2 separate regions of the Homo sapiens genome follow, and region 2 is linked to region 1. Evidence: fine-mapped expression QTL. A gene starts in region 1. The other region holds a variant in brackets. All regions are shown on one strand. Distances are between the middles of the regions. Region 1 holds the start of LRRC8B (leucine rich repeat containing 8 VRAC subunit B). Region 2 overlaps LRRC8B (leucine rich repeat containing 8 VRAC subunit B).

Region 1 (4,392 bases):
ACTTGAACAATGAGAACACACAGACACAGGAAAGGGAACATCGCACACCACGGCCTGTTGTGGGGTGGGGGGAGGGGGAAGAGATAGCATTTGGAGATATATCTAATGTTAAATGACGAGTTACTGGGTGCAGCACACCAACATGGCACATGTATACATAAATAACTAACCTGCACGTTGTGCACATGTACCCTAAAACTTAAAGTATAATAAAATAAAAAATAAAAAAATTTTAAAAACCTGCCTTCTGTTGTTACCAGGTAGCTGCAACAATAGAAGGCCACATATCTCCCCAGATAGCCTCCCTCACAAATTGCTTACAGTGAAATGCCTTGTGGGTCCCTAAATCTTTCAGAATGCATATCCCTCCTATAAATGAGCCCTAAAACACAGTTCTGTTGAATCTCACTCTGACAATAACAGCTCATCTTCATATGTATGGTATAAGGACAAGACTTGGAAATCATCCCTCTGCCCACCCCAAGACAAATTCATAATTGACTTTCCCCCTATTTTCACATTTATCTTATGTAAAATGTAGATTTACTGAGCATGAGAGGAACACATAATCAGTATTCCTCTACCCACTCTTCACACGCAAAATGTGAATTCACTGGGCACTAATCAAAGCCTCACAAGAATGTAACTTCTTCCCTCATTGCCTACCTTCCCATTTCCCTTTTTTTTCTTTCTTTTCTCCTTCCCCTCCTGCTGGCTCTTTCCCCTTTAAATACTGAAGTCCTCAAAAACTCTCTTTGCAAAAGGCACAGATCACAGATGTTCCTGTATTTGTGCTTTCTCCTGGGGAATGTCCTTAACCTTGGCAAAATAAACCTCTAAAACGATTGAGACCTGCCTGTCATTTTTTTGGTGCTTAAAATCCATGATGGAATTTTTAATCACTATTTTAGACTTGGGTAAATCTGGCTGTGAAAGTAGTGACAGAGTCTTTTAGAATTTTCTTCTACCAAAAATAATTAATCAGAAAGTCCCTGAGAGAATTTCAGATACTCCTGTAAGGATCAAACCTAAATTTAAATTAGACTTGTAGATCTGTGCATACCCAGTGTCTCACACATATAAACTCAATAAAAATTTATCGAATGACCAAGTGAAGAAATGTTCTTTCAGCTTTTCCTTCAAGACTCAGAAAAAAGATATCTGCAGTTCCAGAATGGACTGAGTGAACAAGAAAAGAACAGATCAGTGACACAAAGACAGCCTTCTTTTTCCCTTTCAGGGTGACTCAAATTGTAGTCCTCATCTGAACAGTCTGAGACACAACTCTTGTCTCATATTAACTCGATAGGGCATTTGCTATACTCCCATTTACACAAACTGCTCAGATGCCCCAAATGCTGAGTCTGTTCGTCTTCATTTTATTCCTTTGGGAGATGCCGGTACAAACTTGTTTTTTCTTTCTTTTTTTAAATGGAGATGTGACCACCATAGCAACTAAAAGACATAAATCTTGCCTAATTGAATCAGTGTGCTCAAGATAATAGCCAGGGCAGAGACTGAGTTAAAACTGGGGTAAGGGTGAGAGTGGGGAAATGGATGAGGATGATAAAAATATTTATGTCCCTAGAATTTGTGGGTTTGGATTAATTCTGTTTCGTAAGGAATATTGTTGGCCTTCAAATGCAGTGCCACTTGGGAGAGAAGCAAGCGGGCAGTAGTTGAGGTGTCTCTGCAGTTGAATCGCAGTGAAAGGCAGGTTATGAGTATAGGGACCGCCCCTCGGCCATGTGGTCCCCTCCCTATCCTGAGGATAACGACATTTGAGAGAAGCCAATGGTATTGGAAGGCCAGAATCGAACTTAAGCCGCTTAGTTGGTACAACTGTAAACCCTCCCTCACAGAGGCTGGGCCCTGCAATCTTTCTAAGCAGGGTAAAGAAAAGTAAGGGGACTTCCTTTTCGAAGAGGAGGTTCCCGCGTGCTGCACCCGACCTTTCCCTCAGGGCCCAACACGCGTTATATAAATGCCAAGTTACTCAGGGACGCACACGTGAGAAGGCTGGGGCCCGACACACGCGGTGTAGTGCCGAAGTCACCGGTGTGGCGCGCCTGGGGGACACGCCGAAGCCCATTTCCCTCCCGCTTCTGGAAAGCAGTCCCCGCTCTTTCCAGCTGCTCCGCGGGGCGTATGGCTGTGCGCTACCTCCTGCGGACCCCAGGCTGGGCGAGGGGGCAGCGATGGCCACATGGCGCGCTCGGGGAGATGGCAGCTGCGCTTTGTTTCCAGCAGTGATAGGTGAGTCACTGGCTCCCGCAGCCCCAGAGCTGGGCAAACACTCAGGCCCAGGCAGCTGAAAAATTCACAGCAGGAGCAGCTACCGAAGCGACTGCAGCCTCTTCCTCCTCTTCCTCCTCCTCCTCCTCCTCCGCCACTGCTACCGCCACCACCGTGGTAGCCGCCTCCGCGCCCTGCCTCCGCCCCGTCCCCTCCTCCTCCACCCGCGAACTTAGTCAGCGGTTCGCGCCGCCGAGCGCCCATTGGCCAGCGGAACGCGTCGCGTCACAATGGAGCCGGTCGGAGGCGGCGAGCCGGACAGCGCCGGGGCTTCCCGCTGAGCCCGCAGCCTCCGGCAGCCGGGAAAGTGCGGGCGCGGGGCCGCAGCCTGCCCGCCCGGAGCGGCCCAGGAGCACGCCGCGGGGAGCGCGGGCGTCCGGGGCTGGAGTCGCGCAGGTAGGTCGGAGCGTGACACCCCGGTTCCAGGAGGGCGAGCCGCGCCGACCGAGGTGGTGGAGGAGGAGGACCGGATACGGGGACGCAGCAGGTGGGGCTGGCCGAACAGGTGCGGTTACCTGTTCACGCCTCACCTGCGAGCCAGGCTGCGGGCCGGTAGCGCGGCTGCAGAGACGAGTGGCCGCTTCGTTGTGCTCCCTGCCTTCGGGAGAGACGGAGTCCCACGCTGAGAGGACCTCTCCTGTGTGCTGGGGTCATTTGGAGCAAGAGGTGTGGGCGGTCGCGCCGAGACGGTCACCTCTCTTTCCCCCGGGAGTCTCGGCGTTGCACCTGAGCGTGAGTCCTCGGGGCGGGGCGGGAAAGGGGTTCCGCTTTCCCAGGCTGGCGTCTCGCTCCAGATGAGCGCAACTCCCCTGAGGGTGCCCCCATTTGGTCGCTCTGTTTTGCCCCCTGCGCTGGCGCTGTTGGGAACTATTTTATGCTCTTGGGAACTATTTTATGCTGTTGGATACGCGTTGGTTGCCTATAATTTGGTGGTGGTGTTGGGCGTTGATTTGTTTGAGAAAGAAAGGGCAAGCGTTACCAATTTAAGAAGAAGACTCAAGAGTTTCCCCTGAGCTTAGTTGAGCAGGTGCTGAGAGGTCAGAAGGGAGGAGGCTCAGTATTGGCTCATTAATCTGTGTGCTCAACTGACTTCCTAAAGTCCATAGATTGCCTTTAGTTAGATGACATTTGTGGAAAACTTTTTTTTTCTTTGTGGTCAAAAAGACACCCCTCTAAAAGAACAAAACCGACATGTGAACTTCCTTGAATAAATTCACTTCGCCTAAAGACTTCAAACAAACAAACAAAAAAACACTCCACTGGTAAAAGATAACAGTATGAACATTTTAAATTGTAGATATATAGCCAAATTAAAACAGGCAATTTGTTCAGCGTATATTAAGAAGACATTACGTAGCATGATTTTTATTAAAAGACAACCTATTTGCAAATGATATAGTAGTCTTTGCAGAACACCCCAGAAATCTTAAAACAGATTTATCTTTATCAGATGGTTCTGTCCCCTAAACCTAGGTGTAGGAGTGAGGATGGAAAAGAAGTCAAACTGCAGTGTAATTTTTTAAACAATTCCAGTACCCTCTATGTGTACAGGCTACACCTCCTGAGAACCCCAAATGCTCTTTGTTTTGTTTCTTTGTTTTGTTTTGAGACGGAGTCTCACTCTGTCGCCCAGGCTGGAGTGCAGTAGTGCGATCTCGGCTCACTGCAACCTCCACCTCCTGGGTTCAAGTGATTCTCCTGCCTCAGCCTCCCGAGTAGCGGGGACTACAGGGGCCCGCCACCACGCCCAGCTAATTTTTATATTTTTAGTGGTGGCGGGGTTTCACCATGTTGGCCAGGCTGGTCTGAAACTCCTGACCTCAAGTGACCCACCCACCTCGGCCTCCCAAAGTGCTGGGATTACAGGTGTGACCCCAAATGCTCTCTGAATTGTGGGTGCCGAGGTGACTTTCTTTTTCTCCTGGCTTTCCTTGTCAGCAGCTCTACTCAGAGAATATAAAGTGACAGCCAACCCCCAAGGTAATTGGGCCTGTGTAATTTTAGAATATAAGCCCTAACATGTCTGATATTTCTGTAAGCTAAAAAGAGGTCTCTTGAATGGGGGTGATGTTGTCATTGAGTGCACCCTTGGGTCAT
Region 2 (4,392 bases), 33 kb after region 1:
CCACCCTGATTTAGAAGTCATGTGTCAAACTTCCAGATGGGGAGTATATCTTTTGTCTCCTGGAAAACCATTGAAACTCTGTTTCCAGAGGGCCCATGTTTCTCCTCTTTGCTAAGACCAAGTGAAGCTGCAGAATCCTGCTGAGTTATGAAGCCCGAAGCCAGCCTAATGTGGAGAAATGACCTGTCACCTTTTTTGGAATGTAGGCATTCTATGTGATTCATATTAGTTATTTGTGCGTTATTTTAGAAGAACCTTACTCTATCACTTCAGAGTGCCCAGAGCTGCCCTAACTTATTCTGAATGCTATGGCTGAGCTAAATTCGTCTTCTCTGCTGATGGGGCTCAAATGGAGTCTTTAGTCTCTGCTAAAGGATTCAGGAAGCCTTTCATGTCATGTAGAATTTGGGATGTAAATTGAAGGTAAGAAGGTATGAAGATTGTAAGATATTTTTGCAGTTTTTGCTTCCAAACAAGGAGGTCTAATTAAAACTCTTGTATCTGTTCAATTAATATTTAGTAGCAGCTTCTACAAGCTAAGCCCTGGGGTGCATTGATAAGCATGATACATGTAGACCAGACCTCAGAGAGAAATAAACCTTTAATCAAACAATTACTTATAGGTTTGTGATAAATGTTATGAATGGAAGGGATAGAGAACTACAGGAGCATGTTGTGAAGTGACCTGTCATCATGTCAAGGAGGTGTCCCTTAGGAAATAACTTTCTTAGTCATTGACTCAGGGCATCAGTGACTTAAACGACTGCCTTGTTTTGGCCTTGAAAGCAAGCTTGACCTTTTAAGTGAACTATCTGGCACTGTTTGAAATTGCATCAGCCAGTTGGAATAAGAATTCGCTCTCCTGTGAGACTTTTCTTATACAGCATCATGTTATGTGTGTAATAAAGTCATATTTGGCCTTTGCCCCCATGTCACATCACAGAGCCCCATTCCTGATAAGAGTGTCCTTTGTTATTCATAGCGAGCCCCTGTTAACCATACCTAAGTTTGTTCTAATGTGGTAACTCACTGTAGGCACCTGGGTAGCTTCAGGATGGGGCCTGGTCACCAGAGGATCTAACCATGTGATTCCAGCATTGGAACTTTTACGCCCACCATCAACTTCTGGAAAGGGGAGAGGGACTGGAGATTTTCAGTCACTAACGGCCAATGTTATTTAATCAATGATGCCTACATAATGAAATTTTCATAAAAACCCCTAAACAATGGAGTTCAGGTAGCTTCCAGGTTGGTGAACACATCGAAGTGCTGGGAGGGTGGTGAGGTTGGAAAGAGCAGAGAAGCTCCATCCTCCCACTGCCCTCAAATACCTTGCCTTTTACATCTCTTCCATTTGGCTGTTCCTGAGTTGTATCCTTTATAATAAATCAATAAAGGTAAGTAAAGTGTTTTCCTGAGTTCTATGAGTTACTCTAGTAAATTATCAAATTTGAAGAGAGCGTTATGGGAACCCCCAAATTTATAGTCAAGTCAAACAGAAGTACAGGCAGCCTGGATTCCTGGGACTTGTGATTGAGTTTGAAGCAGAGGCAGTCTTGTAGAATGGAGCCCTTAAACCTGTGGAGTCTGATGCTAACTCTGAGTAGTTAATGTCAGAATAGGATTGAATTTTAGGACACCCAGTTGGTGTTACAGGGAGTGATATCAGAAAAAAAGACATCTCACTCTGCATTTACCCTAAATGTAAACCAGACATTCTCCCTCTCCAGCTGAGGAGCAAATGGCAACCAGTGATTTTGACTACCAGCAGCCATTAACCAAGTTACAAATATGAAGCATTAATTTAACACCAAGGTAAAAATGGACATTTTACCTGAATCATAAGTGACATAAGAGCTTGCTCTTTCAAAACAGACTGGTTTCTTTCTGAATGCTCTTGCCCAATGCTTCATTCCCCACACCTTCCTCCATGGAAAATAGGAGCTGGAACAGATAAGCAGTGTTGGCTGACTGGAATCTTTTAAAAAGCCTTCTCTGGGTTGGGCAGTTAGGCGTGTGCACTCCATTGGCACAGTGAGCCAGAGATTGTGCGCATTCTGTTTTTGTCTTTTTCCAAATCCCCAGTTGACAGACATTAAGGGATCCATTATCATTCCATTATTGCAAGGCAGATTTGGAGAAGAATTTTCTACTGAGATGGTTGTTTTGTCACAGTGAAACAAATGAGTGACATTCTATGTTTGGGCCACATAGTTCTTCTGAACCCCTGGGCCTCAATGCCTTTTTTGAAGCGTTCTTTTTGACTTCACAGTAGGACCCAAATATGATGAAATGTCAATGTCTTTGCAACACTTGCTATTTTGTTTCCCTGGAACCACAGTGGCATAAATAAAGCTCACTTCCTGGGTTGTTTTTTTCAAAGATACCATCCCAAGGCCAAAAGCATCCTCTTTTTAAATCACTTTGCTAGTAAAAGAATTAG[G/C]TTTCTTTATAAGAGTTCTCTTTTGCATCTGTTTGCTACTGCAATGATTTCAGAGTGCTTCCATGATATTTATTTTACCACTAATATCAATTCTTGAGCCAGTGTGATTATCTGTATTTTAAAGCTGAGGAGATGGAGGCCTGTATTTAGTGAGTGATTTAAGCCCATGCAGATGATGGTGGAGGCAGGCCTGGGACTCAGTCCAGTGTTCATTTTCCACACTGCTGCCATGGAAAACCAGCCCCTGCTTCTCACTCTCACTAGTGCGAGGAGCGGAGAAACAAAATGAGACTGTACTCAGTCAGCAGCAGATACATAAAAGTTTCCTAATTTTTATTTATATGTTTTTCCTAATTTTTATTTATGTGTTTTTATGTTGTGTGTTCCCCTGCTACGGCTTGGGGAACATTGAAATTAGGAAATTTATACTTACCTAAAACAGCTCTAGAACATTTACACAGTAACAGATCAGCAAGTAGAGCAATTACTCTAACATGTGCAGGGTTGACTCTCACAGCAGTGACTGCTGCTGACCAGTAAGTCAAGAAAACTTCTGTAAAAATGCCTAGTATCTGTAAGCATAGACACCAGTGAAGTATAGATAGAAATAAAGCCAGAGACTTAAAAAAAAATCCCTTGCCATCACAGCAGGGTTCCAAACTGATTGGAATCCATGAGACAGGCAGCATGATAAAGCAAGAGGTGGCCATAGCTAACTGTGAGGCTGAGTGAGTGCCCACAGCGAGTCACAGGGTGAAGCATCCTGTTGTCATGTTTGCACTGTTGTCAAGTGATCAGTGATCACTGTGATCACAGAATTCATAATCCAGTCTGCCCTGCATTTTGGGGTCAAACTTAGCACTCCTGGGAAGGAAACAGCAAGAGCCAATAAAACAGAAAGCAAGAGAAGCTGGAGATCACCACTCTTTCCCCTCACTTCCCATTGGCAAGCCTCCCCAACCCTCCCTGAGACATCACTTTGTCTTTATAATAACAAAGCAACAAGTCAAGAGGTGACATGTTTTAGAAAGAGCTCTCTGACTGCAGTATGGAAATGGGACTAAGGAGGGCAAGAAAGGAGGCAATTTCAGAGTCGTCCAGCCCAAAGATGACATGGGCCCCATCCAAGACAGTGGTAGCAAGATTGTAGAAGGGGCTAGTTTAAGAGACCATTGGATTTGAGGGAATAGAGGAAGAGAAAGTTTCTGGGTTAGGTGCCTGCCTTAGTCTGTTTGTGCTGCTGTAACAAAACACCTAAAACTGGGTAATTTATAAGTAACGTAAATGTATTCCTCACAGCTCTGGAGACTGGAAGGTCCAAGATCAAGATACTACAGATTTGATTTCTGGACGTTGAACATGGTGTAGGAGTAGAAAAGCAACAGGGACGGAAGGAGAGAACTTACCCCTTCAAGCCCTTTTATAAGGCACTAAATCCCATCATTGAGGGCAGAGTCCTCATAGCCTAATCACCTCCTAAATGCTCCATTTCTTAATATTGTTGCACTGAGGATTAAGCTTCAACATGAATTCTGAAGAGGACACAAACATCCAAACCATAGCAGTCAATGCCTTAGCCCTTGATGTTGCTATCAACCTGAGATTCGGGGATCAAGGAAGGACAGGTATGATATCTAGGTGTGGGAGGAAACGGTAGATGCAGTTTGGGACATGCTGTTTGAGTTGCTTCCACACATCTCGGTATATAGCCAGGAAGATGTTGGGGAGATGATTCTGCAGCTTGGGGTTAGGGAGCTGGGCTCACCATATACACAGAGGTGGCGGATGAAACCTTAAGCATAATGCTCAGGATGTCACCCGAGCATAGCATATGTGTGAGTAGAGAAGCTACAGGCCCAAGACTGAACCCCAATGCTTAAGGGATAAGCTAGTATTAGGAACCTTCCATGGTCCTAATACCTTTTTATCTTCAGTTAAAATTAGTACTT

The links. PIP is the estimated chance that this variant, and not a neighbour inherited with it, causes the effect.
Region 2: its variant is fine-mapped to the expression of LRRC8B in whole blood (INTERVAL, PIP above 0.99).

Annotation. Positions count from the first base shown.
Region 1 is chr1:89,522,332-89,526,723 of GRCh38, forward strand. It overlaps LRRC8B (leucine rich repeat containing 8 VRAC subunit B), which reads left to right and starts at 2,498. Exons shown (of 6, transcript NM_001369817.2): 1 at 2,498-2,691. RefSeq lists a silencer at 2,362-2,821 and enhancers at 3,523-4,024, 4,025-4,392.
Region 2 is chr1:89,554,969-89,559,360 of GRCh38, forward strand. All of the region lies in intron 1 of LRRC8B (leucine rich repeat containing 8 VRAC subunit B), which reads left to right. Among named protein-coding and RNA genes, the nearest start is that of LRRC8B, 32 kb to the left of the region's middle. The variant G/C (reference allele first, on the strand shown) is at 2,444.